4 separate regions of the Homo sapiens genome follow, and regions 1, 2 and 3 are each linked to region 4. Evidence: fine-mapped expression QTL. A gene starts in region 4. Each other region holds a variant in brackets. All regions are shown on one strand. Distances are from middle to middle.

Region 1 (8,109 bases), 42 kb before region 4:
AAATATAAACTTGCTTAAATTTACCTTGCTTTTTAATGTTTAGGCGGCGTTCAGCCTGTTTAGTAAGATTTCATACAAGGCTGCGTCCATCATTATTATGAGAGCCATTCTCTCTTTCATTTAATAACGAATAGTTGGCTGGTCACAGTGGCTCATGCTTGTAATCCCAGCCCTTTGGGAGGCTGAGGCGGGTGGATCACAAGGATGAAGACCATCCTTGCTAATACAGTGAAGCCTTGTCTCTACCAAAAATACAAAAAATCAGCCGAGCGTGGTGGCGCATGCCTGCAATCCCAGCTACTCAGGAGGCTGAGGCAGGAGAATGGCTTGAACCGGGGAAGCTGGGAGGCAGAGGTTGCGGTGAGCCTAGATCACACCATTGCATTATAGCCTGGACATCAAGAGTGAAACTCCTTCTCAAAAAAAAAAAAAAAGAAAAGAAAAGAAAAGAAAAAATAATGATACAGGGAGATAATAAATAAGTAAATAAGTGTTTTACGAAGCTGTAAAATCTAAAGTAAAGGTAAAGATGGTCATAGATAGGAGCAGGAAAAATTACACAAATCCACATGAGCTTAATTTTTGGTGGTGATTTCTCATCAGAAAAAAAAACATAAAAGAAAGTATGAATAAGAAAATTGTCCACATTGCTTTGGTAGAAAAAAGTAGGAGGAAAAACAAAAACAACAAAATAATGAGAATTATACAATATTAAGCTTTAGTGTTCTTCATTTATCATGGTGATTGTTTCCCCAAGAAATAACAGAAGCAAAATAGTCAAAATAGAAGGACACATAGGCATATATTACTGTCTACGTATATCAAGCCAAGTTTAATTTTAATTCATTCTTTCAGAAATTTTATTTTAAATTAACAATTGTAAAGATTTATGGGACACAAAGTGATTTTATAATACATGTATACAATGCAAAATAAGTTGGGCTAGTTAACATATACATCACCTCACACACTTATCATTTCGTTGTGGTGAGAATATTTAAACTCTACTTTTCCAACTTTTTTTTTCAGATGGAGTTTCGCTTTTGTCGCCCAGGCTGGAGTGCAGTGGCACAAGCTTGGCTCACTGCAACCTCCACTGTCCGGGTTCAAGTGATTCTTCTGCCTCAGCTTCCTGAGTAGCTGTGACTATAGGTGTGTGCCACCAAACCTGGCTAGTTCTTGTATTTTCCGTAGAGACGGTGTTTCACCATGCTGGCCAGGCTGGTCTTGAACCCCTGACCTCTAGTGATCTGCCTGCCATGGCCGCCCAAAGTCCTGGGATTACAGGCATGAGGCACCATGCCTGCCTTTTTCAGCAATTTTGAAGTGTACATTTTTTAACTGTGATCACCATTCTGTGCAACAGATCACCAGAACTACTTCCGGCCTCACAGAAATTTTTTACCCTTTGACAAATGTCATCCCTTCCGTATGTATTCCTATCACTACCCCACACTCCAATCTCTGACTACTTTCTGTGTATTTGTATAAAGAGTCACGATCTTGCTGTGTTGCCCAGGCTGGAGTGAAGCGGCACAACTATGGCTCACTGTGGCCTCAAACACCTGAACTCAAGTGATCCAACCGCCTCATCCTCCCAAAGTGCTGGAGATAACAGACATGAGTCACCACACTTAGCATATTCACTATTTTTATGAGTTCAACGTTTTTAGATTTTACATGTAATTGTGACCATGCTATATTTGTTTTTCTGTGCCTGTCTTATTTCACTGAGCATGTTTTCCAATTCCATTCATTTTATCATAAATAAATAACAGCACTTTCTCTTTTTTTAAGGCTGTATAGTATATTCCATTGTGTATATGTGCCACGCTTTATCTGCTGATCTGTTGATGAGCACTTGGGTTGTTTCCTTATCTTGGCTATTGTGAATAATGCTGACATGAATATAGGTATGCAAATATCTCTCTGAAATACGAATTTATATCATTTGAGTACATATTCAGAAGTAGAGTAGCTGGACCATGTTGTAATTCTATTTTTAATTTAATTTTTGAAACCTCAGTTCTATCACCCCAGAAGCACAGGCTACAAAAGCACAAGAAAAACAGCAATTGGATTGCATCACATCAAACTAGAAAGTTTCTGCACAGCAAAGGAAACAATTAGCAGAGAGGGTGAAGGGACAACCCCTACACTGGGAGAAAATGTCTGCAAATCATATATATGATAAATGGTGAATAATAAATACATACAAGAAACTCACACCACTTAACAACAACAAATCAAGTAAGCCTATTAAAAATGGGCAAAGGACCTGAATTTACATTTCTCAAAAAAAGACAAAAATGGTCAAGTCTATGTTTAACTATGTTTAATTTTATTTATTCATTTATTTTATTTATTTATTTTGAGATGGAGCCTCACTCTGTCACCCACGCTGGAGTGCAGTGGCGCGATCTCACCTCCCCACAACCTGTGCCTCCCAGGTTCCAGCGATTCTCCTGCCTCAGCCTCCTGAGTAGCTGGGACTATAGATGCATGCCAACACGCCCAGCTAATTTTTATTGTATTTTTAGTAGAGACGGGGTTTCTTCATGTTAGTGAGGATGGTCTCCATCTCCTGACCTCATGACCTGCCCATCTTGGCCTTCCAAAGTGCTGGGATTACAGGCGTGAGCCATCAAGCCCGGCCTTATTTATTTATTTATTTATTTATTTATTTATTTATTTATTTATTTTTTTGGAGACAGAGTCTCACTTTGTCACCCAGGCTGGAGTGCAGTGGTGCGATCTTGGCTCACTGAAACCTCCATCACCTAGGTTCAAGCAATTCTCCTGCCTCAGCCTCCCTAGTAGCTGGAATTACAGGTGTGTGCTACTGTGCCTGGCCAATTTTTGAACAACTGTATATTTAATGATGCTTCACCACCAATCATCAGGGAAATGGTAATTAAAACCAACAATGCACCTTCTCTCAAAATGTTAGAACAGCTATTATCATGAAGATGAAAGATGACAAGTGTTATTGAGAATGTAGAGCAAAGAGAATCCTTGTGCACTGTTGGTAGGAATGTAAATTCGTATTTCAAATTATTAACATGATTATTTATTTTTAATTGAAAAGTTTTTGTGCCTTGAGATGCATTAATATGAGTTGCTTTCTGTTAGTCAAAGTTCAATGAGAAATGCCTTAGTTACCCTAAATTAAGATAAATAGGAGCAGTCTCATAAGACTTGCCTTTCAGATTCTCCTTAAGTACAGAATAAAACCTGTGGTAAATACTCTTTCTGAAGAAAACATGTTCACTGATAATGTATACGCTACAAAAACTTGTTAAAGGCATTCCAAAAACGTACTAGGTGAAAAATGCATTACGGTTATTTTTCCTGCTCAGTTTTTGGATCCAGATGGATTTTTTATTTTGTTTTATTTAATGAATTGTATAATTATAGTTAAGAAAACAAAAATTACTAAGGCACGTTCACAGGAGAACATAAATGAATTTTATTAGAAACCACTTCCAAGATTTTGCTGTGTATATTTTTTAAATTTAAGAGCCTCTTAACAAGTCACATTCAGCATCTTTACTCATTGTTCTGTGAAAGTATATATGTATATTTTATGAACATGTCATACTTTTTCTGATTGAAAAATATCCAACCCTATTGCAGGAGTGACAGTAATTCCTCAGCTGCTTATTTTTATTCTTTTCAGTTTTCTCGATGTTTACATAATAGTACGGTGCTTCTGGCTGATTTTCAGTACGTCCTGGCAACACTTTGCCTGACTGCCATGGGTACAAATACTGATAGAAGAGGAGCATAAAGCCAGTGGCCAATAGGTAGCTTATGATGAGCTGCACGGCAATTAATGAGTCACAACAATTCAGCAAAGTTTTCCCTCCAAAGAACCTAAATACCAATATCATTATCACATTTTCTAAAAACTGAAAGCTGTAGTGTAGGATTCTATGGCCCCACCTCTGTCTCCCGTCAATTATTTTGTCATCTGACA[A/G]CTGCAGTTTCACTGCTGACCAGCAGGAGAAGTTGATGGCAGCATATAGCAGTGTGATCAAGAAAAGCATCAGTACTGTACCCACCATATTGGAATTATTTTCTTTGTTGCCAGGAAGATGAGCTCCACTTTTCCAAAACTCCAGCCACGGTGCCAACAATGATACAAAATATATGATTAACAAAACGGGTAGGCTCTTCAGTTTCAGAGATGCAATGAAAAATGCCAGAGTCACTACACGTGAGATAACCTCCAAAAAACGCCACATCACGACACAGAAGAATTCTATCGGCGGTAGCTTAATGGTAGTATCATCATTGCTGATCTGGATGGCCAGTATATTGCAGCGAATGGCCCCATAAGTAACTGATAACAGGGAAAATGTCATCAGCAATGCTATTAAAGACAAACATGAAAATGTTAGAGAATATTTTTCATTAGTAATGACCACTTTCTTTTTTAAACTTGCCATTTTAAGATATATTCTTCCTCACCCACCTCCTTTAGAAAATCATTTACTTATAAAAAGAAAGGTTTGTTAATCTTCCATTTTCAGGGATACAGTAAGTATAGGCATGCAAAACATATATTACACCTTGGAAAAACAAATAATAAGCAAATACATACATATCTACATTTATACATGTATATACACATTCCCTCAAAGAGAAGACTGGCACAGATAAAATGGAAGAGACACATTCAGATCTGATGCTATAAGGTGTGACAGCACATATAAAGCAGTCTCAATTAAAAAAAAATACCTGAATTAGACACTGAAAAGACAGTTCCATTCTTTATAGAAAGTTAAGAGTGTTAACTAGGAAGTTAGCATGTGAAATAGGAGACTAATGTAATATAGACTGTGTTTTAGACTATGGTGGTAACAGAAAAGAAGAAATAAGCTGTGGAGTTAAAGTAAATCCTGGAAGTGGAGCTGACAGATTCTGCTGAGTGATGGAATACAAGGTACTAGAGAAGCAGAAAAAAATAAAAAGCTACAGAAATTAAGAAGTATGTGTGGCCGGGCGCGGTGGCTCACGCCTGTAATCCCAGCACTTTAGGAGGCCGAGGCGGGCGGATCACGAGGTCAGGAGATTGAGACCATCCTGGCTAACACGGTGAAACCCAGTCTCTACTAAAAATACAAAAAATTAGCCGGGCGTAGTGGTGGGAGCTTGTAGTCCCAGCTACTCGGGAGGCTGAGGAAGGAGAACGGCATGAACCCGGGAGGCGGAGCTTGCAGTGAGCTGAGATCGTGCCACTGCACTCCAGCCTGGGCGACAGAGCGAGACTCCATCTCAAAAAAACAAACAAAAAAAAAGAAGTGTGTGTGTGCATGTGTGTGATTGTATGTATCCATGCAACTTTATGAGAAACTTTTTCATAAGCAAAATTATTTTAATTTCAACATTGTTCTCTCAACAATTAGACAAATAAGCACATGGAAGAAAACCAAAATTATGAAGTAGTTGAATAATTGGTTTAAGCACTTTTGTACTACATTCAGTTGAAAGAGAAAAAATTCATTTTACATATACATGCAGGTTAAAAAAAAATACACTCTTCAGCTGGGCATAGTGGCTCACACCTGTAATCCCAGCACTTTGGGATGCTGAGGTGGGTGTATCAAGAGGTCAGGAGATCAAGACCATTCTGGGTGACACAGTGAAACCCCATCTCTACTGAAAATACAAAAAATTAGCCGGGCATAGACCCAGATACTCGAGAGGCTGAGGCAGGGCAATTACTTGAACCCAGGAGGCAGAGGTTGCAGTGAACCAGGATAGCGCCACTGGACTCCAGCCTGGGCGACAGAGCGAGACTCCATCTCAAAAAACAAACAAACAAATAAACACTAACAAAAAACACTCTTCATACACAATGAACTTAAGCCAGAAAACAAAAAAAGGCCAAATAGCAAAATAGTCATTCCTCGTCTAAATTTATTATTCACTTTCTAACACCATTTAGAAAATGAATATTAACACTCCATTTATTCCTTAAGGAATACTCAAAGTGAAACTCTAAAACATTAGCATTGTAACTGCATTTATGAGAAATGAGACTGAATATAATAAATGACCTAAAAATTAAATGTTCGAAAGTAAAATTTGGCCAGGTATGGTGACTCATACCTGTAATCCTACCTTTAGGAGGCTGAGGTGAATGGATCACTAGAGCCCAGGAGTTCAAGATCAACCTGGGCAACATGGTGAAAACCTGTATCTACAAAACGCGTGCACACACACACACACACAAATACACAAATTTAGCCAGGCATGGTGGCACATGCCTGTAGTCCCAGCTATTCAGGAGGCTGCAGTGGGAGGATTGCTTGAGCCCAGGAAGAAAACATAGGACTTTCACTTGGGTCTTTATTTTTCTGTGCCTTCACCCCAGCACTTTGGGAGGATGATATCAAGGGGCAAACTTCTAGACACATCCCGACAACAGATGAGAAACTGTGGGCTCAGCAGGATGGAGTCGAGTTCCAGTCAACATTCCTACTGGTTGACTGAATAAACCTCAGAGGGAAGACCATGGCAGCTGCATGCCTTGAGTGCATCCAGTGCTCTACTGTGGGCTACAGGTGCAACCTGGCACTGAGTCAGCTTTGGTGGTCAAATTACTTCAGCCATCAAAGTCTAGGCATTAGGATTCCCCCTACTTCTACCAGGGCTGAAGCTATCATAGACTTAAAGACCTTAATTTCCTTCTTCTTCTTGCCCTGAATCTCTGGACAGGCTTACTGTAGAAAGAAGCTTCCAAACAGAGCCCAGACATGAACACTGAATCAGGCACCTATATCATTGTGCAGATAACAATGCATAGTCACAAAGATCAGGATCAATGACGAGAACATCATGGCACCAAGTGGACAAAATAAGGTGCCAGTTGTGAGTGACCCGAAAGAGATGGGCATGGACACATAGCCTGACAAAAAATTCAAATACTTATTTTAAGACAATGTAGTGGACTTAAGGAAAACACAAACAATTCAGAAATTTATCAGAGAACCTTAGCAAGGAGATTGAAATAATGGGAGGAAAAAACTAATAAAAAAGTTGAAGATAAAAACACAATAAAATAAAAAAAATACAGTTGAGAGTATTGACAGAAGTGGCCAAGCAGAAAAACTCAAGGACAGATCAATTAAAAATATACAGTCAGAAGAAAAAAAAAAGAAATCTAGAAAGTTCATAGGATTTATGTGATAACATCCAAAGAACAAATGTATTAGTCACTGGTGTTCAAGGAAAAGCTGGGTGCAATGGCTCACACCTGTAATCGCAGCTATTTGGGAGGCGGAGGCGGGTGGATCACATGTGGTCAGGAGTTTCAGAGCAGAGTGCCCAACATGGTGAAACTGTGTCTCTACTAAAAATACAAAAATTAGTCAGGTGTGGTTGGTGGACGCCTGTAATCCCAGCCACTCAAGAGGCTGAGGCAGGATAATCACGGAACCCAGGACACGGAGGTTGCATTGAGCCAAGATCACGCCATTGCACTCCAGCCTAGGCAACAAGAGCAAAACTCCGTCTCAAATTAAAAAAAAAAAAAATAAGCGTATTGTAGGAAAAAAAAGTAAAAAGTCTATTTAGAGAAATAACAACAAAAAATTTTCCAAATCTAAATAAAAATATAAATATTCAGGTAAAGGAATATTGAAGTCTTCCAATAAGATTAAATCCAAATAATATCGCCATGGCTTAATATAATCAAACCAACAAATATCAAAGACAAAGACAGCATACAGAATTAAGCAGGATAAAAAAGAAAATATCATATCAGGAATATACATATATATTTATATGCATATATATAATGTAAATATTAATAGATGCAAAGGGAGAAAAAAACTACAAGGTACTAATAGAAAACTTCAGCACCTTACTTTCAGAAATGAATAGATCATGCAGACAGAAAATCAGTAAGTAAACATCAGATTAAAATGCACTGTAGGGCAAATGGACAAAACAGTTACAGAACTATCCATCCAAGAGTTATAGAATACACATTCTTTACTGCATACATGGAACATTTTCCTGGATATATCATACATTAGGCCAAAAAACACATCTTGATGAATTCGAAGAGATCAAAGTCATACAGGGTATCTCTTCTAA
Region 2 (8,109 bases), 180 kb before region 4:
AAGCAACCATTTGTAAGCATCTTCATAAGAAATGATCACCTCTGGGTTTTTCTGGTAATATTTGAAATAAACATGGAACCAAACTGTATTTCCCTCAGCACATAACTGTCCAAATTGCATGTGCAAGTAGAGGTTTATGTAAAAGCCCTGACAGAACTGTACTCAGTCTTTTGAATTAGATGCATAAGGCTACTGACCACTCTCTATTTTACCAAGGGAAAGAGCAGTGACTTCTCTATTTCAGTACAATTATGGGCAGAAATGACATGATGCAAAATAGAGGTTCTTCCGTACAATTTAAGATGTAGGGTATAAGGGAAGACGAAAAAGCAAAATTCCCAAGAAATCAGAATAACTTCACACTGGTCTTGTACTACAAGAAACCCTGAGATGAACTGTAGTCCTCAAACACCTGTGCTTGGCTCAGGCCCTCCAAGACACTTCAGTGTGCTTCCAACTGGCTCATAATCAACTTCCTGGTATATTCGTAGGCCAAAAAGAGTGCTCCATTGTCAGGGAATGCTCGAATCATAGTAGGTTTCAGTCCAGAATATAAGGCCATTATTCCTAGAAGACAAAAGGGCAAGTAAAGACTGCAACAGTCCCTCCTTTGGGGACACCCACACAACTGCATAGCACAGGTATATTTACACATGCAAATCCAGACAAGTGTGCTAAAAACCAACAAGTCATGGAAGGACGCATTCCCAGCTTTCCCTAAATAGACCAACAGAAACAAGGACAAGTATCAGGTCTCCTGGCGAAACTGACTGATGCTCAGGTAACATACCCCAATTCCATGCTTGGTTAACTCTTAGTACACGGATGGGTCAGCGTTGAGGCCTGAGATGGCCAGACAGATGCAACCATGGAGACAGAGGTGGCCACAGCTTTGCAGCTTCACCTGGGCAGTGGCAAGAGCACCAACCTTGAGGTTGGAGACTGGTTTATAATATTAGTACTGCCCAGGGTGGTTATGAAGATTGAATTAGATAAGGGAGGTATAAGTACTTTGTAAAACTTCACGTTATACAAATTTAAGGGAGGATTACTATGAGTAATAGACAAGTTATCTGTGCTCTATTTGGGACACAAAGTTGCTGTGTTACTGTTCTCTTTCCTTTTACAATCAAAACAGAGCAGTTCACATCTCAGATTTTAAGATGTATACTAGATGCTGGAAAAACAGGTGTTTATTCACCTTCATTTTTCACAACATTTATAAAGGTTCTGATAAATCCTGCCGGTTTTCCAGACATGGAAAGAACTTGAATTCTGGATTTGATACAATCCACTGGATATACCGCAAGCCATAGGCAAATCCCGCCAACTCCCTCCACCACTTAACATCAAAGGGACAGGGCCTAGAGAAAAAAAAAATAGCAAATGGTATTTTATCTCAAGAACAGCTGATGTGACATTTCCAGAGGTCAATGTAGTAATGGCTGCAGGTAGGTGCAAATAGAAATGCTAATGCTGCAGAAGAGTTCTTTGTGGAAACTGTCAAAGCTCTTGTTCCCAGGCTCTAAGAACACAAGGTTTTGTTTGGTAGCCCAGGTCTACGCCTGGGTCTTGCCAAGTACAAGAAGCTCTAGTGAGGGTTGTATTTTGTTTGGTCACTGAGGTGTCGAGGGCTGGCCCACATGAACCAGCAGGCCTCCAGCTGAGTGGCAACCCCTTACGGTGGGGAGAAGACAGGCCAAACACAATCTACGTCTTTTTTTCTTTTTTCAACTTTCTCATTCTTAAGCATTTTAATAGCCCCGATTCTTCCTTTACCATGTTTTTATTAAACATAGCAGTTAAGTCTGGGAGCTTGTCTAATCCCAGAATAGATTCAAAATGCTGAGGGAGATGGTAAGAACAGGTAAATGCATTTGCATTCACAGCAGTGGGGTGTGATGGTGTTTGCTCCCTGCAGGTATGGTTTCTGTGGATTCTCTGCTCTTTGTGCTCTCCTCCCCACATTGGTGGCTCCACCTGGCACAGGGAAGCTTCTGGATTCCAGAAGGTAACATGTTGGCAGGCAGTTGATAGCACCCCACCCTCCAGGCTTGATAATTTCCTTAGGACAGGGGCTGAAGCAGTACATCCCAAACTTTCTTACTGGAATAAGGTTTGTTAATTTTTCTAGATCTATTTTAGAAGAGAAGAAATTCAGAAATGACTTTCCCAGTTGGGGAATCACCTATAAATAATCTTGAAAAAGCTTAAAACTTGGTAATCTCAGTAGCGTTTTGAGAGTAGCGAAAACCATAGTTCTTTGTAGCTTATCATGTTTAGTTGGTTGGTACCACTGCATGCGATGTTTGCCTCACATAAGTGAGTTTTTCTTCCCTGATTTTGTCCTTTGCTAAGGAAACTGAACTGAACTGAAGTCCAGGTCTTCTGTAATAGAGTGTCTCTCCTTCAACAGGGAACAACACTACAGTCGCCCGTAGTTTTGTTTCTGTTCAGTCTCCATTGTGGCATGCCACACTCTCCTGGTTTGGGCCCTGCTCATTTCTTTACTGCCTTCCTGCCTGCCCTTTTTGTGCAGGTAGGTCATCCCATTCATGCTCAGCCCTCCTCGCTGTCTACACTGTCTTCTTGGGCAATCGTATCCAGTCCCAAGCCTTTTAAAAAAACAAGCTATACCCATCCTGGTGGAATTCCTGCCTATAAAAGGGCGCACCTTCAGACCTCCAGGCATGTCCAGCGAACACTGCTATGCACACGGAACCAAATTCAGTTGTGTGGGACCTGCAGCTGCAATTGGGTTTCCAACTTCCATTGCTGATGATCAAGTTAAAATACGAATGTGCTGGATTAAATGCTTTATTCAGCTTATCTGCATCTAGGTTATCTAAATTACACACCCACTTAAAACATTCTGTCACCTCTTCTCTTGGAATAATTAATTATTTTAATGTAATTCAGATCTCATTTTATCCTAGCCCAGCAGTACCTGGGAGAGAATGACTCAATCATAGTAAAATCATATTAAATTATATTCCACTGATTCAGAATTGGAGATAATCTGGCAATTAAAGTGAGAAGTGTGTCATTCCTCTCCTGGAAGAAATGAACAGTAATGATGGGATCACAGAGATCATACATATAAGGGCCCAATACAGGTTCAAAACATGCCCATCGGCAACTGCCTTACATACCTGGCTCCCAACCATACTGTTACAATTTCTATCTTTCAAACTCACTGTAAATTACAAATGTGGTACCCAAATACCTGTATGCACATAAATATGAAAAGGTAAACTCTTTTTTTTTTTTTTTTTTTTAGGTGGATTCTTGCTCTGTCACCCAGGCTGGAGCGTAATGGCACAATCTTCGCTCACTTCAACCTCTGCCTTCTGGGTTCGAGCAATTCTCCTGCCTCAGCCTCCTGAGTAACTGGGATTACAGGCGTGTACCACCACATCTGGCTAATTTTTGTATTTTTAGTAGGGACGGTGTTTTACCATATTGGCCAGGCTGGTCTTGAGCTCCTGAACTCAAGTGATCCACTCGCCTCAGCCTCCCAAAGTGCTGAGATTACAGGCTTGAGCAACCTTGCCCAGCCAAAAGTAAACTTTTTAATTCCATCACAATATGTTCTAGATCTTTGACAGACTGAAAGACATAGAATGTCAAAAGGTGAGACTCTCTCATGTGGCTAAACACCCTCCTACTGCAGATACAGAACTGAGCCCAAGAGCATTCACATGCTGGTGAGAGGTGGTGGCCAGGGGCAGGCAGATGGTTGCACCACTCTCAGGGTCAGCATCCTCCCCAGTGTGGCATGGGGGAGGGGAGGGGAGG[G/A]GGCACGGGGCCTGGGAGGCTGTAGCCTAAAGGCACGCAGCGGGCAAGAGACTACTGGGCGGACCCCTGCCAGCCTTCAGTTCCATGAGCGTCTGGTGCCAGGACGCTCCTTGTGGGCTCTGCCCTGGGAGAAGTGCCCTTGCCCAGTGCTCCTTCTCGGTGTCTGTGACGTGCTGTCTCCAGTCCTCCTCATTAGCATACCTTGGCCGACCTTTGGCTCATGGAAAAACACTTTGCTCTTCTCGGAACAATTTCTTTTTCACAACTGAGCAAATGACTGATGAGGTGACCACACTCATGACCATACTCATCTGTTGGTGGTGGGTGGGGGGTGGACTGGATGAGGACAGCATTGGGCAACACTCTTTCTGGCCTCCCCACTGCAGGGAGCCACAATTACTGTGGGAGGCCAGGGTAGTCCAGGGTTTCCCTTTGGGCCATCAGCATTCCAACTGCTCCTCCTACTTCTGGCCTCTGGAGAACTAAATTACCACCATGCACTTCCCATTCCACCTGTGCCTCAGCCCGAGGGTCCTGCTCTTCCTGCATATTCAAGCTGATCTTTCTAGGGAGTAGCCTGCACTGTGCCAGCACTACCCCCTTGTCACAGGCAGCACCTCCCTGTGCTGGGGGAGCCTCAGTCTGCCCTTGGGCTCAGGCCCCTAGGCTCAGGTTAGCTGACATTCCCAGGAAATCCTACAACTTCTCCTTTCCTTTCATGGCTGTAAGACACAGTCCACTATCAGTCTCATTGTAAAAGACATTTCTAAAGAGTGTCCTCCTTTCTTTCCCAACACTAGCAGGGACAGTAAGTGATGTTTCCTGGGAGATGCTATGGTGTTATTTTTGCACTACAAGGGCTCTGAAGACTGCCAGGCTTGAAATGAAGAACGATGTCACCTGCCTATCACAGCCAGGTGACAATGGACAAGGGGCTTCACCTCTGAGCTGTTTTCCAGCTGCACTGGGCACATTCCTCCCCTCACCCTGACTCACAAGGTGTTAGCAATAATGGACACTTCTCTACCTTCTGCCACACTCTGAACAATGCCACACTTCCATCAAATGGATTCATCCCAAAGGTAAAGCCCATCACTTCTAGAGGGAGAAAGGTAATGTTTTCCTACCACTTTTATTTGATCTCATTTAGAAGGTACTTGAGGAATAGAGAAGACTGGGTTTTCTCTGGGATTATACTTAGGCATTTCTTAACGACTGGGACATGTTCTGAAAAATCTGTCATTACACAATTTCATCATTGTGCTATCATAGAGCATACACACCCGACCCTAGATGGCATAGCCTACTCCACACCTAGGCTGTACAGTATGGCCTGTTGCTCAAGGCTACACACCTGTACAGCATGTTACTGTACTGGATACTGTAGGCAACTGTAACACAGTGGTATTTGTGTATCTAAACGTATATAAACACAGAAAAGGTATAGTAAAAGATGGTATAATTTCATGGGACCACCATCCGATACACCATCCATCACCAACAGAAACATGGTTATGAGGCACAGGACTGTAACTGCAGCCCCTGCCATGAGGTCAATGGCAGCCTGGATAGGGGGATTGGACTTCATGTTTGCCCACTCTTCTGGTCTCATGGAAGGCAGCTCTCTGGAGCTTATGACAGGCACCACATATCCCTGGGGGGAGGCAAGAGTTCACCATTAGTCCAAGTCTGCAGCCTCCCATTCTCTAGGCCTGCAGCCAAATTACTGGACCTAAACTTCTGGGAGCCATGAACTGGGCTCTACATTGTTCCAAAGGAAAGGGGCTCAAGGAATCAGTGCAGCTTAGCAATTGTCCCTTAGAAAGCTCACAGATCAAAAACCTCCCCTGCGTATCAATTCTACAGCCACCAGCAGCACTTCAACTGACCTTTCTGAAAACTGAAAAAATGAACACCAAATAAGTCAACCACAGATGTACTAACCCACATCAGGCTTGCTTTTTTAGAGGCCTGCGCTGAGCCATCAACTGAACAGGCTCACTTCTAAATCAGAAAGCAGCCTGTGCTGCGTGCCTAAGGGAACGTCACAAGACAGTAGGTCTGGAAAGAAGCACCCAGGCAGCCAAGGGTGGGAGCTGCACCCCAGGATCACAAACGCCTTGGTGAATGCCTGCTCTACCTGCAGTGTGGCCCCTTTGGCCTCTACAGCTGGAAGTCTTCATCTGTACAAAGTGAATAATAAAAATATTATAAAACAAAGGCAGTCACAAATAGCCACATTGGTGTTGAGGTGATCAAACCCAACACCAGGCCATGGGGGCTACAAAGTCCGGCAGAGTCAAAGGAATGAGACAAGCTAATAGTACACAAAGTGGGTCCAGGGGGCCAATGCTAGTATAGAGGCTGTGAAGGCCCTGAACTCTGGGAGCCCACACCATTTATTGGAGATTAAACAAAGAAGCAGGTGGTGAGGACGTGCTGGTCAAAAGGAAGCAGTCACATCAAGTGTTTAGTTTATAGCTGTGTCGGTCTAGCATTTTCTTTGAAGCATATGGAACATGTTCTGCTACTCGAGATAATGAACATTTCCTTCTGCCTCAAGGTACAATCAGTTTATGATCCTGGGAGAGCAAGAAGCAAGGAGCCAGCAAGTCTGGACACATTCCAGAGGCCACGAGGGGTTTTATGTCCTGAGTCCTGGATTCCATCCAAGCCATGAGGGGTTTTATGCCCTAGGCTTAGGTTGTAGTGCGGCGGGGCAGCCTTCCACCCTTAAGCACAGAACCTGGTGTTCCATAGGCCACAAGAAGTTTTAAACTCTGGACCCAGGACATGTTCCAAGGCTCTTTTCATATTATGTCAGACTAGCAAGTCTTGCCTCAGCTTTTCTCCCAACAATTGGACTGATGGGTTGCTCCACTGGGCACAAGCATCATGGGTTCTTAAAACAAGGCCCTGAACAAGCACCAAATATGTTCCTGTCACCACACTCCACTAGCCCTTCAACTATAAACATGCATAGGAGTCACCTGGGGGCCTTGCTAAATAAAATGCAGCTTCTGATTCAATAGTCTCAAACAGGACCAGAGATTCTGCGTCTCTTGTTGAGTTCCCGAGTGAGGCAGACAATGCCAGTCCACAGACTCACATTTTGAGATACAGCACCTGGGCCATTGTGTTCCAATGTGCTTGATAACCTGGAGCACCTATTAAATATCCAAGTTGCCAGGACTTTCTTCTGGAAATCTTAATTCAGTATGTTTTGTTTGGAGCCTTGGACGTTTGGGAAAACTAGAATTTCTTTCTCTCCCTTTAGACAAAAGTCAACTACTGCTGAGGCATGGGCTTAATAAATGTTGACTAAAATATCCAACTCAACAACCAATCCTGTATAATTTTCAAACTCTGTCAATAACTTGCTGGGTCCAACCTGCAGACCCTGGCTGCGTGATGGATGAAGAAATGCACTCAGACACAGGTATCCTGTGAAAGAATGGGGTAGGGGACTGGGCAGCTCCCAGACACTGAGGAGGGTGCTATAAAGAGTCAGCAGGTGCTATAAAGAGTCACCAGGCACAGCCCTGTCAGGCTGGGGCTCCAGGCATTTATTCAGTACAGATTTAATGACAAAGTTCTCAAGTAAACACCACACCACTAGAGGGTAATTAACATTGCTGACCTCCTGAGTAGAGAGCAGTCATGCGCCCGCAAATGATCAAAGGTCTGTTTTAGGACCACATGAGTAAACAAGCTATTTAGATAAACTTCTCTACATTCCTATGTATCTACGCCCTAAGCTTTTAAGAGAATTCAGCTGCCTTCAGCCAAATCTTTTACTGAAGGTATGCAAACCTCCCAGCCTTCCAAGAAGTTTTGTGTCTATCTCCTACAACTTAATTTTTATAATTTCTCCCACCACCCTGACAGATCCCCTACAAAAGACCATGTTTCTTCTCAGCTTGCTCAGTCCAGCTGAGCCAGCTTTCCACTGGACTCCTGAATGTGAGAAGGACACAGGCTCCCAGGACCATCCAGAAGCATCTCTCATCACCTTAAAGCTCTGAAACACTGGCTGGGTGCAGAGGCTCACACAAGTAATCCCAACACATTAAGAGGCTGAGGTGGGAGGATTGCTTGAGGCCAGGAATTCAAGACCAGCCTAGGCAGCATAGCAAGACCCCATCTCTACAAAAAGTACACCCCAAAATTACCTGGGTGTGGTGGCACATGCCTATAGTCTCAATTAGGAGGCTGAGGTGGGACTATTCTTTGATCCCAGGAGTTTGAGGCTGCAGTGGGGTATGATCGCACCACCGCACTCCAGCCTGGGAGACAGATTGAGACCATCTC
Region 3 (8,109 bases), 120 kb before region 4:
GACTTTTTCAGGGCAGTTATGACAGAAAATGAATTCAGACACTGAGTGGGTCATTGTTTCCAAGACGTTCCAACAGTCCCAATGTCCCCAGCTCCTCCCCTGTCCTCACTCTTCCAACTCAGATGCCCAGGATTTCCACCAAACCGGGAATGTAAGTATCCTTTGGAGTCCTCAGAGACTGAAAATCACTGCATAGATAGAAAGAGAATTGAGATCCATGTTTTCAACCAGTCTCTCCCACATTGGTGGTGCTACACAGCAACATGTATGTGTGCATGGCTGTGTGTGTGTACATAGACTTCTGTAGTCACATATGTCCATGTACAAGCCCATGTCCACATGTGTGTACACACATACATGCAGCAGATAAGAGACAACCGCACTATGGTCGGGCATGGTGGCTTACACCTGTAATCCCAGCACTTTGGGAGGCTCAGGTGGGTAGATCACCTGAGGTCAGGAGTTCGAGGCCAGCCTGACCAACGTGGTGAAACCTCGTCTCTACTAAAAATACAAAAATTAGCTGGGTGTGGTGGCGGGTACCTGTAATCCCAGCTACTCGGGAGGTTGAGGCAGGAGAATCGCTTGAACCCGGGAAGCAGAGGCTGCACTAAGCCAAGATCATGCCATTGCACTCCAGCCTGAGTGACAGAGCGAGACTCTGTCTCAAAAAAAAAGAAGAGAGACAACTGCACTTAACCCTGGGGAGTTCCTCCTTGTCATTAGAGATGAAGACACAAAAATAAGTCATAATACGAGGACTCAAAATCACCAAAAGTAAGGCCAGAAAAGAATTTCTGTGAGACAAGAAATGGGCACCAAGGGGTTTTGAGGAGTGGGAGAGGACGGTCTTTTGGTCTGGACAAATGCAGCAGTGACAGGAAAAGGAAATCTCTGGCTCTGGTGTTGAAAACAAGATACTTCCATAAGAGAACAAATCCTAAGACTGGGGCCGAAAGAGAAACGTTGGCACATGCCAAGGGGAGTTACTTCTCATGCAGAAGGAAATGTTTTGCCAGGCATTGCTTCCCCTAGAAACTGTTGATTTTACTTTTTGTTTCCCAGATTGAAAGCCAAGAAAAAAAAGCTAAAGTGGTGTCTTGGTGCAGATCATGTCAAGACACAAGGGTAGTGTCCACGTTAGAAGGTCACACTCTGTGTCCATACCACTGGGCCAAGCCTTGGGACCATCTGCTTCCCACTACCCTCAAGGTCCTCACCAGCTTGTTGCAGTCCTGGAAGACGTCACTGGTAAGGATTCTACAGGAGGAATCCACCATCGTCTGCTTCATGATGTTGTTATGGCAGGTGGCAGGGGATGAGTCCAGAGGCACCTGGGAACCAGGCAAGAGATAGGCCAGCCGTCAGCTGGTCAAACTGGGGTTATTCAGCCCAGAAGGATCCAAGAGACCCTCCTTCCCACCCTGCAGCCACCTGAAGGTCATACCACCCACAACCCCCCTTCCAGCCCCCATAAGAATGGGGACAGAGGGACATTCCAGGAAGCAAGCTCTCGGGCTCTGTCCACACAGAGACCCAGACGTAGTTTTCTGGTGTCAGCAGACTGCGAGCTCACTTTCCAGGAGTTCCCAAAGTCCACAGGGTCTTCCTCCACTTGGAGGTTGCTGCTGGTGAGGTCACTGTTCTGGATGCCATCAAAATTCCCACACAGGCCACACACTTTCTCCTTGAGAGACAAGTTGAGGGATGAGCACCGTCAAGCCCAGGGGCATGCTCTCTGGCTCAGGGGAAAGGGGAACGTTCCTGGCGGCAATGGAGGCAGAGGGCATTCGAGGGAGAGGAGGAGGAGCGGGACAGAGACTCAGAGGAGGCCCGAGGTGAGCAGCAAAGCCTTGCCATTGCCAAGCCCTATTCCTGAGCTTCCTTGCTGGCCCCATTTTATTTGAAGCTATGGAAACAAAGAGAGGCAACATGCCCATGTCACATAGTCAGCCAAGGGCAGAAGTGGGAATCAGGCAGCCTTGGCCCTGAGATCACTGGTGGGAACTATCGCTGTCCCCAACAAGCGTAGAAGCAGAGAGAGGAGCCAGGTACACTGCTCCACCAATGGAGGTGTAGGGGTCCAAGGAGGGAACGTTATAGAACTGCCTGCCTCTGGGCAGGTGAGTCCCCTTGCCTGGAGAACCGCAGCCTGTTCAGACCAGGCTGGGCAGAATTCTGCTCTATCATAAATGTAACCAGGAAGATATGTCTCACCTGTCTCCATGTTCACCCATCATGGAGTGCAACATGCAACAAGTTCTGAAAAAGTAGTTATGAATGAGTGAGAAACAAGTGAAAACTACACAAAGAGGAGGGATAAGTTCTAGTGTTCTGTAGCACCACAGGGTGACTATAATTATCAACAGTTTATTGTATATTTTCAAGTAGCTGGAAGAGCAGACTTTGAATGTTCCCAACACAAAGAAATGGTAAATGTTTGAGGGAAGAGATATACTAACTACCCTGATTTGATCATTACACACTGTATACATGTATTGAAATATCACACTGTCACCAGTAAATACATACAGTTAAATGTCAACTAAAAATAATAATAAAACAAAAAAAAAACTACAGAAAAAACTGGAAATATTTGGCCTGGAGAAGAAAAGGTGCTATACTTTTACAATATACTTAGAGCCCTGATGTTGAGACAAAGAGAAAAAATGTATTCTATCTTGCTCCAGTTTCCCCAAGCTCTTCTACTCACTCTGGTCTTTCGGCCTTCCTGTTTGAAGGTTCTTTGTGACTACAGTGGGCCCACCTAGATAATTCAGGATAATCTCTCCATTTTAAGGTCAGGTGATTAGCAATCTTAATTCCACCTGCAACCATAATGCTCCCATGCTGCCTAACAACATATTCAAAAGGTCATCCTACTAAGGGTCATTATTCTACCTACACACTAAGTAACTGAGAAAAAAGTAAAGTTATGTATCATGCCTTACCTATGGCAAGGAAATAATAAATTATAATGACTTATCTAAAAAAAAAACTATTTTTAAAAGCTTTGGTCCTAGTCTATTGATTAAAGTTTTGGTATATTCCAGATAAATTTCATGTCCTTGATGCTAACACACTGTGCACAGTAGATGGCCTTTTAAGATATTACTTTATAAGGGAATATTTAAGGTTATCTGGACGATAGAAAAGGAACTTTAGTTGCTATGCCACAAAAGGCCGGATTTCTGCACATTACACCTCCTACCAGTGCATACATGTGCCAAACTCCTTCCTGAAAGCCTGGTTTGTGTTTCCTATGTGCTTAGCAATAGTCTTTACTCTCATGACTGTTTATATGAAGTCCTACTTTTTAAAGCATATCCTCATTTATTTGTTTTCCTGAGCCTACCCTTATTTCCTCCTCTGAACTGGATTTCATCTGGTATATATTGCACAGGTTTGCACACTTGATTGTACGCTACTTTACAGCATCCTCTTGGGTTCTGGACACAGTTATTTTTCTCCATGGTAAGGTGATAAGTGACTTCTCTGAGGACTTGCCACCTTAGTATGCAGTGGTGACATCACCTGCTCAGGCTCTGTCTGCAATGTGGAATTTAGTATTTTCCAACTTCTGGTCTAACTTGAACTTCATAATTAAGCAGAGTCGCCTTTTGAGGGAATAGTAGGGTGTCTGCCCCTAAATGTCTGTGTAAATGCAGAAACACATTTGGGAACATAACTGACTTTTATGTACAGAAGCCAGATGCATTTCATGCCCATGCATGCTTGGGGAAGCAAGTTCATCTCATCTATCACAATAAGCATCTGTTCCACTAAATTCCACTGCAGGATACTTTTCACACTTAGACAACAAAACATTTAAGGAAATAAAAGCTCTTTCCAATAAAAATGTGCATCAAAAACTGTGTGTATTTTTTTTAAAAAAAAAAAACCTTCCTCTATAA[G/A]ATAAGCCACAGGAACTACTAAAAAAGCATTCTTGAAATACATTTTCTGATAGGCATCTACGCCCTTGCCTTATATAAGATTTAAGGAAAGTGATGTGTGTGTCTTTATGCTCGAAAGGCTGCTTTCAACAACAAAGGGTACGCTTTGAGGGATCAATATAGTTTTGAGAATGCAAAAGTTTAAAAGAACTAATGGAATGCATATTATCCAGGTATGAACATGCATTTGTCATTATTTTCCTACCATCTACTATATTAGAAACAGAAGAAAAATTATGGAAATGTCTGTTTTCCCTCAATAGGAATACCTATTTATTAAAGTTAATTAATTACTATTCTTTAAACATTTTCAAAATAGACTCATAAGTGACAACTTTCAGAGAAAATAAGGGTTTTTGGATGTATATATTTACTTATAACATGGATAAAATTAATAATTTTGTTAAAATATTAACTCCATATCAATAATGCTCTCTATTGTTTTTGCATTTTTTTAACAATAGAGAATCTAATACATTTAGTGTTCATGAGTTTCATACAGTTTCCTGTCAATGTACTTTGTCTTTTTTTATTGGACTACTAATCATTTATTTATGATTTGTTGGAACTACTCATATGTTAAATATGTCAAGTGAATTGCAAACACTTGCTGCTGACTTGATATTTGCTTTTTACACATATTCATGGTATCCTCTGAAATAGAAAAGTTTTATATTTTAACAAATTCCAATCCATGAATATTTTTTTTTAAATTTTCTGTTATTGGTTAGTGCTATGTTTAGATATTTAATTTTAACTGTCACGTTGCAAATGATATTTGTCTATGGTATTTTTTCTTTATATTTTGAAAAAAGTGTATTTGACATCCACTCTGGAATTAGTATTATGAATGACATATTATACCTTTGTGCAACTATAAAATACATATAGCCAATTATCTGAACACCATTTTATGAACCATTTATCACTTACCAACTGATTTGAAACACTACCTTTATCATATATTGGATTTTAGGTTTATTGAGATTATGTAACATGAAATTATTTAATTATGAAATTATGTGAATTCAAGCATGACAGTCAGCTCTTCTTCCCCACCACTACCCTGTAAAAGGGTGGATGGAAGAATTGCTTCCTTATGGCTTAAGTGTATGAGTAGTATATAACATGGTCTTGATGAAGTGGGAACTATACAGAAACTGTTTTTGGTCCTGAAATGTACTCCAGCTTTACCAATTTGTTCTGCACATATACCATTGAGGGTAGAAGCTGAATTTTGCTTACGATTATGTTTATACTACTTAACATTGTGCCAGATACTGAGTAGATACTTAGAAACATGTTTAATGATTTGTTTTATTGCTAGATACCTAATTATCTGCTGTAGTGGTGCTACCTCATTCAGAATAATTTTGACCAGTCTTTCTCCATCATGAATAAAACACTTATTTACACACTTGTGTACATGCACATGTGCATACAAACACACCCTTTGCAGAGACAAACTGCATTGAAAGCATGTACAAACATTATCGTATATTTGTTGATTCTGACCCGATTCTGATTCTATAGTATACTTTTTCATTCTGATCACAATAACAATAAAAATAGAAAACTGTAAGTGTGAAGCTGGAAGATGCAGAACATGAAAGATCAAATTACCAATTTTTTTTCTATTTTCTTTAGTTGGCTGATGATGAAATCAGAAAAGTAATGGACATAAAAATGAAAGTATGCAGTGTGTGTGTGTGTATGTACGTATGTATATCACATGCACTCATTTTCATGATGTACATATGGAATTTCACAACCAGCCAAACTAAGCTTCATAAGTGAATGAGAAATAAAATCCTTTACAGACAAACGGATGCTGAGAGATTTGGTCACCATCAGGCCTGCCTTACAAGAGCTCCTAAAGGAAGCACTAAATATGGAAAGGAAAAACCATTACCAGCCACTGCAAAAACACACCAAAATATAAAAACCAATGAAACTAGGAAGAAACTGCTTCAACTAATGTGCAAAATAACCAGCTAGCATCATGATGACAGGATCAAATTCACACATAACAATATTAACTGTAAATATAAATGGGCTAAATGCCCCAATTAAAAGACATAGACTGCCAAATTGGATAAGACTCAATACCCATACGTGTGCTGTATTCAAGGAGACCCATCTCACTTGCAAGGACACACATAGGCTCAAAATAAAGGGATGGAGGAATATTTACCAAGCAAATGGAAAGAAAGAAAAGCTAGTCTCTAATAAAAAAGACTTTAAACCAACAAAGATAAAAAAGGACAAAGAAGGGCATTACATAGTAGTAAAGGGATCGATGCAACAAGAAGAGCTAACTATCCTAAATATATATGCGCCAAATACAGGAGCACCAGGATTCATAAAATGAGTTCTTAGAGACCTACAAGGAGACTTAGACTCCCACACAATAATAGTGGGAAACTTTAACAACCCACTATCAATATTAGACAGATCAACAAGACAGGAAATTAACAAGGATATTCAGACTTGAACTCGGCTCTGGTCCAAGCAGACCTAATAGATATCTACAGAACTCTCCACCGTAAATCAACAGAATATACATTCTTCTCAGCACCACATAGCACTTATTCTAAAATCAACCACATAATTGGAAGTAAAACACTCCTCAGCAAATGAAAAGAATGAAAATCATAACAATCTCTCAAACCACAGTGTAATCAAATTAGAACTCAGAATTAAGAAACTCACTCAAAACTGCACAACTACATGGAAACTGAACAACCTGCTTCTGAATGACTACTGGGTAAATAGCAAAATCAAGGCAGAAATAAATAAGTTCTTTGAAACCAATGAGAACAAAGACACAACATACCAGAATCTCTGGGACACAGGTTAAACAGTGTTTAGAGGGAAATTTATAGCATTAAATGCCCACATCAGAAAGTGGGAGAGATCTAAAATCGACACCCTAACATCACAATCAAAAGAAGCAATGGCAAACACATTCAAAACCTAGCATAAGACAAGAAATAACTAAGATCACAGCAGAACTGAATGGGAGAGAAACACGAAAAAACCTTCAAAAAAATCAATTAATCTAGGAGTGGGTTTTTTGAAAAGATTAACAAAATAGTTAGAACGGTAGCTAGATTAATAAGGAAGAAGAGAGAGAAAAATCAAATAGACACATTAAAAAATGATAAAGGGGATATCACCACTGATGCCACAGAAATACAAACTATTATCAGAGAATACTGTAAACACCTCTACACAAATAAACTAGAAAATCTAGAAGAAATAGATAAATTCCTGGACACATACACCCTCCCAAGACTAAACCAGGAAGAAGTCAAATCCCTGAATAGACCAATAACAAGTTCTGAAATTGAGTCAGTAATTACAGCCTACCAACCAAAAAAAGCCCGGGACCAGACGTACTCACAGCTGAGTTCTGCCAGAGGTACAAAGAGGAGCTGGTACCATTCCTTCTAAAACTATTCTGAACAATAGAAAAAGAGGGACTAACTCATTTTATGAGGCCAGCATCATTCTGATTCCAAAACCTGGCAGAGACCCAATAAAAAAAGAAAATTTCAGGCCAATATTGCTGATGAACATCAATGCGAAAATCCTGAATAAAATATTGGCAAGTGAATCCAGCAGCACAGCAAAAAGCTTATCCACCACGATCAAGTTGGCTTCATGCCTGGCATGCAAGGCTGGTTCAACATACACAAATAAATAAATGTAATCCATCACATAAACAGAACCAATGACAAAAACCGCATGATTATCTCAATAGATGCAGGAAAGGCCTTCAATAAAATTCAACACCCCTCATACTAAAAACTCTCAATAAACTAGGTATTGATGAAACATATCTCAAAATAATAAGAGCTATTTATGACAAATGCATAGCTAATATCATGCTAAATGGCCAAAAGCTGGAAGCATTCCCTTTGAAAACTGGCACAAGAGAAGGATGCCCTCTCTCCCCACTCTTATTCAACATAGTATTGGAAGTTCTGGCCAGGGCAATCAAGCAAGAGAAAGAAATAAAAGGTATGCAAATAGGAAGAGAGGAAATCAAATTGTCTCTGTTTGCAGACGACATGATTGTATATTTACAAAATGCCACCACCTCAGCCCAAAAATTCCTTAACCTGATAAGCAACTTTAGCAAAGTCTCAGG
Region 4 (8,109 bases):
GTAATACTCAGCAAGATTTCGAAGGTAAAAAAATAAACACAGCAGAATTTTTTTTTACCTTATTTTTTCTCGCTTCCTTGATGCTAATACAAGAGACAGTGGGAGGGAGTTTCACTGATACGTTCTGCATCAGAATTTAGAATTTCAAAAGATTTTGTTACAAGAATAATCAGAAGAATTAGATTCTAACTCTGTAGGCAGCAGGTATCTAGGAAACCTCGTGCTTCAATTTCATATAAATTGAATTTACACTACATCTTTAAATTTTTTGGACTTCAATATGATTATTTTATGTGAATTTCAGTTCAAACAAACTATGCTATAGCTGTTACATGGAGTTACAGTTTAGTTTTATAACATACTCGTTCTGGGCATTTATTTTTATTATTTTTTGCCACCTAATAAGAAATTTTAAAATCACTATTAAAAACTTTAATAAATACATGACATTCTTACTGTATCTACAAATTAATTTATCAAATGGCTGTGATAGGTGCCACAAAGATATAATAGATCTTATAAAATGACAAAAACTGAAAATGGCAATTTTGTATGTTAATTTTAGACTTTTTTCTTTAATCAAATCTTTGAAAAATGCAATTGACTGTTGAAATAATAAAATATTGTGGTTATATAATTTTAAAAATGCATGTAGCACAGAGGCTGAGAGGGGATAATGGTACATGTTATTTTAGTGTTTTAACATTGTCCATAGAGAAGTGTAATACCTCTTCAAGGTAGGTTGTGGTAAATTTGAGATGTACACTACAAACCTCAAAGCAAGAACTAAAGTAACAGTAACAGCTAAGAAACCAACAAAGGCCATAATAGGAAATTAAAAAAATAAATAAATAATAGAAAAGAAGACAGATAAGAGAAAATGGAACAAGTAACACATGGAGAAAACAGAAAGCTACATCAATCAGCACATTAACTGTAAATGGCTTATATACCACAACTAAAAGGTAAAGCCTATAAGAGAAATAAAAATAGTAAAATCCAGTTATATGTTGTCTCCTGGAAACCCATACTTGACATAAAGACACAATTACTACGGAAGAGATGGAATAAAGCTGTGCACTACTAACCCTAGTGATAAGACTGCTGGAATGGCTATATTAATATCAGACAAAGTAGAGCAAAAAAAATGGAAAATATCAACTGATGCTCAAGTTGTTCTGGTTAGCAGTACAAACTCTGGAACCAGACTTTCTGAGTTACAATACTGTCACTTCTATTTTTTTCTTTTAACTATAAAATAAATGTCCACATTGCTAACAAGCATATTAACTAGCTTATTATGCTTGCTTCCTTTGCTTTTGGTTGTGGTGGGTATTTATTTGTTTATTTTTTAAGACATGATCTGCCCTTGTCACCCAGGTTGGAGTGCAGTGGCGTGACCTAGACTCACTGAAGCCTCAACCTCCAGGACTCAAATGATCCTCCTGCCTTAGCCTCCCAAGTAGCTGGGACCACAGGTGCATGCCACCATGTACACTAATTTTTGTGTTTTTTGAGGAGATGGGGTTTGACCATCTTCCTGGTCTCAAACTCATGAGCTAAAGTGATCCACCTGCCTCAGCCTTCCAGTGTTGGGATTACAAGCATGAGCTACCACACTGCCAGAATCCTGTCATTTCCTTGAATTGCAAAATTAAAACCTCATAAGCTACAGTTTCCACATCTGTACAATGATAACATCATTAGAATCTTCCTGGGGAGATAGCAGTGTAGAGAAAATAATACATCGGCAGCAGGAAGAAGAGTTCGTGGTACACAGTGAAGTTTGGAAAGGTGTTCCTATTGACATCATTATAATCATGACCACCATCATCATTTCTTAGAAACACAGAATTGACAGGACTCACTGATTAAGAGTATTTGACAGTGAAATATGAGAGAAGAGATTGCCTTGGTCAATTCTTGAGTATCCATCTGGTAGAGCTTGGAAAAGTGGTGGAAGCAGAATTTTTGGGAAAAACATTTAAAATAAACTTAAACACCTTACTTTTGATCTGCGTGATGTACAGAACTGGTGATGAACAGGGCAACCTTGTCACTTTAAAATATATCTGATTGCCAATTTGCAGCATCACAAGACTAGTAAACATTTACTGTGAAACATTCAGAAAATACAAATTACCAAAAGAATAGAGTTTACCTATTGCTTAGTTTTCTCCAGCAATGGAGAGATCAATAATAATAAATCTGACACCAATTCAAAATATGAAACTTTAGGGTACTCAAGTACTAAAAGGTTTTTTTTTTTTAATGTAAACAAACTCACAGGTAACAGTGTCCAAAGTAGAACATTAGAAATGAGAGATTCTTGATGTAACAACAGGTCCAGGTGATGATAATTCAAGGCTGCTGAAACAAGTGAATGAAATCTTGAAGGGATCTTAATGATGAGAACTAATTCTTGCTTGTTGGAGTGATGAGACAAATGGTCCAAAAATTAAAAAACAAAACAAAACAACAACAACAACAAAATAATTTGTTGCTTGCAAATAGGCCCTAGAAGCAATATGAAACAGTCTTCAAATGAATAGATGAGAAAAATCGCATCTGACCTAATTAATTCAATGTCACAAAAAGAGAGACAATGTGTTATTTAAAGGGATGAGACAGAAAAAACACTCTTGTAAATAAAGAGAGAAGAGTACAATGAAGTACCCATTTCCACCTACGAGGAACGGGCATGTAAGAAAATACGGGAATCATGTGCAGATGATATAATTACTTATCTAGAGGCACCATAAAAATGTTTTTCCCCAAATAATGTCCATTAGGGATAAAATTTTAAGAAAGAAAGGATGTTACTTTTAAAGACAATTGTTAAATACCTAGTAAATAGAGTAAGTGAGTAAGAAAAGCAGAAAGAAAATAAGTTGCAGCTACCAGATACCCACAAAAAGAAAGAAAAGGGAAAAAGAAGGAATGGAGGGAGAGAGCACAAATGGAAAGAAAAAGGGTGGGAAGGAGGAGGGAGAGTAGAGAGAGAAATTACAGAAGTAGGCGAGGGGTATAAAGGAAAGCATGGAAAGACAACTGCAGAGACATCAGAGTTTCTGGGCCTCAGGATAGGGGAAAAATACATCCAACATTATAAGAAATATATCCCACTCTCTCCCCAGCAATCCATACATCGAATATGATATTAATGCAGATTGCACCTTTCTGGCTGCCCCAACCACTTCCTTCTCCTTTGGACTCACAGAAGGACCTCTATAATTTATTTCTGGAAAACACTTATGAAAATATGCACATATGAAAAGGGCCACAGAGTTTAGAAATGGGTCTTCCAGAGTCTAAAATTCAAGGTAGAAAGTGAAAGTGAAGTCACTGAACAATGGAATTTAGGCATGTGTTTGTGATTAAGTGAACTTGTTTCTTGTACTCACATAGCCAGTGCATCACTGCATCTGAATAACAAAAAATATGGTAGATTTCTGCCCCTTTGAGATTTCACTTAAATACGAAGCACTTTCTCCTTCTGATGTTTAAAAACATGCTGAAATTTGTAATATATTAGTAACAACCACTGTCCCACCCAAATGCTAAGCAGCTGCTTCTCTTCTCTGAAAATCAGAATCAAGAGAGGGAGTTTCTAGGCTCAAGACTCGGGAAAAGCCACCCCTGATATCCAGAGATTTATGTTAAGATCCCCAGCTGAGACAGGCAGAGGTCAAGGTAGGCTGAAGAAGCTGATCTGAGATGGTCGAGGGCTGCTCCTACTTACCTTGCCTATTTGCCACCCTCACAGTTTTGAAACTCGTTCAAAAAGTAAATGCTTTTGTTCACCTCTTTAACAGCACCATTTCTGGTCTCGTTTTCAACACTACGTCCTTTGCTTTGCAGGTAAAATTGCTTATTTTCTTGCCTTTTTATGACTAAAGTAGGCTTGCAGTTTGGAGTCAGGTGACTGCACTAGCTGAGTCATCTTCCCTTGAAAACACCAAGGCATTCTTCCTCCCTACAGAGTCACACATCTTAGTTCCCCAAAACGCTCAGCCACAATTTGACTTCGATTGTCCTACATTTAAGGTGATATTTTTCTGATTCTCCCATTAACTCCCTCTTCTCTTCGCACCCATGGCCCATCTTTTGCTGCTGTCTAGTAGCCATTCATCCCCTCCCATCACAAAAGAAGTCTGTACTTCCTTCAGACAGAGCAACAAGAAAATTCCCCAGAAAGCAAACAATTAAACAAATTTTAATTTTGCCTTTTTTAAATGAAAATTCTGTCAAAATTGATGAACCACATCTGGTAGGAGCACCTGTTTTATTTTCACAAAGAGTTTTCTGATCTGGACATTTTTGTTACTTACTGCTAATATGGAAAATTTTGAACTAAACAAAATACACCCCCAAAACTTAAACTATGTTAAACCAAGACAAGCTTCTAACAATGACACCTCTTTCCAGTATGAGAGAACTGCCTCCTACAGTATAAGAAATATCAAAATCATTATTTTTTTATTCCACACATATTCAACACTTAAAGCCAAGGCATTAGAATTTTAATATACCACCTCTCAAGCATGAACATATAAAAATTCTTACTGTAAATGGGGCATGATTATTTTTCAAAGAGAAGAAATATTTTATTCAATTCTAAGATTAATTCACAAATTTGACTCCTGTTTTATAATGATAACTTTACGTTGCAGGACACAGAGATTATTCCTTAAGAAATATTTTTTAAATAGATATTTGGCTCTTGGAACCAAATAATAAAATTTTCTGCTTAGACATACATACAAATTTACTTTACTTAAAACACTTTCTTGTTATTATTACATTTTTAAATCTCCCACTCTTTGGGATCTCCTTATAAGTAGGTCACTTGCTTTTAAAATCTTACATAATTAACATGTCAGATATTTACAGACATACCAAATGAAAGTATTATTTATTCTATGATATGAATAAAAAATGTTTTGAATAGATACATACATGAATAACTTTTTATTCTGAAATCTAATCAGTTTTATTCATATTTGATTTTATTTTAATTTTTTAAGGTATGTTTCACATAATACAAAATTACATTATTCAAAATTATATTATTAAAACATTTCTATCATCAAACAGGAAACCCCATTATCTACTTAACAGTTCTTTCTATTCCCCAGCCCCTGACAACCATTAACCTACCTTTTGTCTATATGGCCATGTCTTTTTACCATATATGTTTTACACTGCATCAGTTTTCAATCCAACATGCCAAGCTGAGAGAGTTTTTAAAATATTTATTTTTATTTTTTTGCACCGTCCAATTACCAGGCCCTATGCTCCTCGCACCAATCTAGTAAGACTGTGTGTGTCAAGGAGAAAATTATGTTTATTTCAGGGATTGAGGATATTAATTAATTTATTTATTTATTTATTTATTTATTTATTTATTATTTTCTTAAGACAGAGTCTTGCTCTGTTGCCCAGGCTGGAGTGCAGTGGCACAATCTCAGCTCACTGCAGCTTCCGCCTCCTGGGTTCAAACGATTCTTCTGCCTCAGCCTCCCGAGACCTGGGACTACAGGCACATGGACCACACCTGGCTAATTTTTGTATTTTTAGTAGAGACAGGGTGTCACCATGGTGGTCAGGCTGGTCTCGAACTCATGACCTCATGATCCGCCTGTCCCGGCCTCCCAAAGCGCTGGGATTGCAGGCATGAGCCACCATGCCTGGCCCTCCTTATTAATTTAAAAGATTCTGCAGGCATGAAACTTTTGCAGAATAAACTGTGTAAGTAATCATTCTATATTTTATTTTTACCAGATACATTTCTGAGACTGGAAAGTAAACAGTCTTGGCCAAATTTTTATGTTTGTTGCTAGGTGACCAAAGTCCTCTTGTGATGCCATTGCTACTCAGGTTGGAAACCACTGTGGTGATCTCAATTACTTTACCTGAGTAGACTACTGAAGCAGCATTTGAAGCTGCAGTCTTGAAACACATGCAGGCTGGAAAAGTCGCTAAAGAATTACTTATTTGAGATGGCACATGTTTCTGCAGAAACTCAAGATGTTTCTCCTAAAGATGAATCAACTGGTTCAAAAGCCTCCTCTGGGTCTCCATTGTGTGAACACATAATCCCTGGGGATTCAGACTTAAGGTCAATGACTGAATCAATGATTTTCAGGTTTTGCCACAAGGATCCTTGATAAAAAGGCCACATTATACTTTATGTCTCTGAGCCAGATAAAGATAATGATTTTCCTTCTCTGACCTTTCCCAGTAAACTTTGGAAAATAGCTGAAAGTGACCAATTCAAGTCTAATTCATAGGATAAGAATGAAACTTGCATAGTGACTAATGAAGAACTCTTCAAGAAAGAAAATTTGGAAATAAAGGCTCCTTACAGAATATTTCAAACTGACAGTATGAAAATCTTAATTTGACAGCTCAACCTTTATGGATTTAGTAAAATTCAACAGAATTTTCACAGATCTGCTTTTCTAGCCAACTTTCTGGCAGAAGAAAAAGAAATTTCTGTTTTAAGCAAGGTATTCAAAATATTTCAGTTACCACTTTGAGTATATATGTAATTTCATTTTATATATCAGTAACTATGTTAATACATGCAGTAAGATCAGATTTTAAAAATTATATCAAATATTAAGGTAAAAATTACTTAATTTTTTTGAAATTATTGAGTGCAGGTTGAGCATTAAACTTTCAGGTTTTAAGAAATGTTGCTAACAACATTCAGTCTTACCAGTGAACTCCAAATAAAGATACCAAAGCCACTTAGTGAAATGTTACTATTAAATGTATAACATGTTTTCACCAGAGGGCTTCAAAACTTGAGTGTTTTTTTTTCTCAACAAGCATGTTCTTAAAAATAGTAAACAATGTTCATTCATTATTTGATGATATTAACTTTGTGTGATAAAACAGAAATCTGAGATTGTATGGGTTATGTTTGTTATTGTTACTTGCCTCTTGGTTTAAAATGGCACTGAATTACCTTCTCCTTGGTTTTAGTTAAAGTTGTATTATCATCCGAATTTCAAACGTGGCTGTCCCCAACTTTTAATAAGAACGAAAAGAAGAATTAAGATTAAAAACACTTCTCTTGTATCTACTTCACTGAATATTTCAAGAAACACTTTAGAGCAGGGGCTAACACAGATAAACATAATTCTGTCTTAGCTGCTGAAACTAGTGAAGAAAGTTCATTTTCAACATCTACAAATTTAAATATGACTCTAACAAGGAAATCTTCTGTCAGCCAGGGCATTGCTGGTTCACCTGACCCAATTAGAAGTGGTTTCCCTCCTCTTCCATTTCAACCTCAGTTGGACAATCAGAACAAATTACAACAAATCAACATGCTATTTTAAATCAATTGACAAATATTCATATGCACTCTCATAGCACCGACATGTAAGCAAATGGCCACGTTGTGAATTTTGTTACAACCACAGCTTCTCAATACTACATCATATCTCCCTCCTTTGGGGCTGATAGTGAAACCACCTACTTTTTCCCACCAGATATCCTGAGGTATTAGCCAATGAGGCTCCTCATTCTAACCTGCTACCAGCAGGCAACCTGTGGTTGTAAATGACTGCGACAGCTGATACATCAGTTGCCTTTCGTTACAGGCCAGCTCTTCAACCATCTTTACTGGAAAAATATCACCCTAGTTACAACTGATCTTCCACCAAAAGAGTACCAGATTATGCATGACAACAGAGACTGAAATTTATGTTGACAAGAACATTAAAAATTCCTGCAATAATCTTACTGAACAATAAAATTACATGTTGACCTTTATGGTTGCTTTTCCTTTATTTCTAAAAATACAGTTAGGAGTAAAATGGGGCTTTGTTTTAGTGGCAGGCTACTGTACCGCATTTAAAAAAAAATATGTGCTTTTTTATCATTTGATGGGAAATTTGACATGGCCCTTTGTAAGCTAGTTTATTTAATTATCTAAAGAGGAAGAAATAATAGAGTGTTTTAGTCCATTTGCTGCTGCGACAACACAATACCACTGACTGGGTAATTTGTAAGGTGACTTATTTTGCTCATTATTCTGAAGGCTGGAAAGTCCAAGGGGCTGCATCTGGTGAGATCTTCTTTCTATGTTGCAAC

The links.
Region 1: its variant is fine-mapped to the expression of XKR3 in whole blood (INTERVAL, PIP above 0.99).
Region 2: its variant is fine-mapped to the expression of XKR3 in whole blood (Lepik 2017, PIP 0.95).
Region 3: its variant is fine-mapped to the expression of XKR3 in whole blood (INTERVAL, PIP above 0.99).

Annotation. Positions count from the first base shown.
Region 1 is chr22:16,780,035-16,788,143 of GRCh38, forward strand. XKR3 (XK related 3) reads right to left here. Exons shown (of 4, transcript NM_001386955.1): 4 at 3,446-4,375. The coding sequence ends at 3,585. Among named protein-coding and RNA genes, the nearest start is that of LINC01665, 36 kb to the left of the region's middle. The variant A/G (reference allele first, on the strand shown) is at 3,980.
Region 2 is chr22:16,645,247-16,653,355 of GRCh38, forward strand. It overlaps the pseudogene TPTEP1 and the pseudogene SLC25A15P5. Among named protein-coding and RNA genes, the nearest start is that of CCT8L2, 56 kb to the left of the region's middle. The variant G/A (reference allele first, on the strand shown) is at 3,799.
Region 3 is chr22:16,702,773-16,710,881 of GRCh38, forward strand. It overlaps the pseudogene VWFP1. Among named protein-coding and RNA genes, the nearest start is that of LINC01665, 42 kb to the right of the region's middle. The variant G/A (reference allele first, on the strand shown) is at 3,915.
Region 4 is chr22:16,821,549-16,829,657 of GRCh38, forward strand. XKR3 (XK related 3) reads right to left here and starts at 3,863. Exons shown (of 4, transcript NM_001386955.1): 1 at 3,743-3,863. It also overlaps the pseudogene HSFY1P1.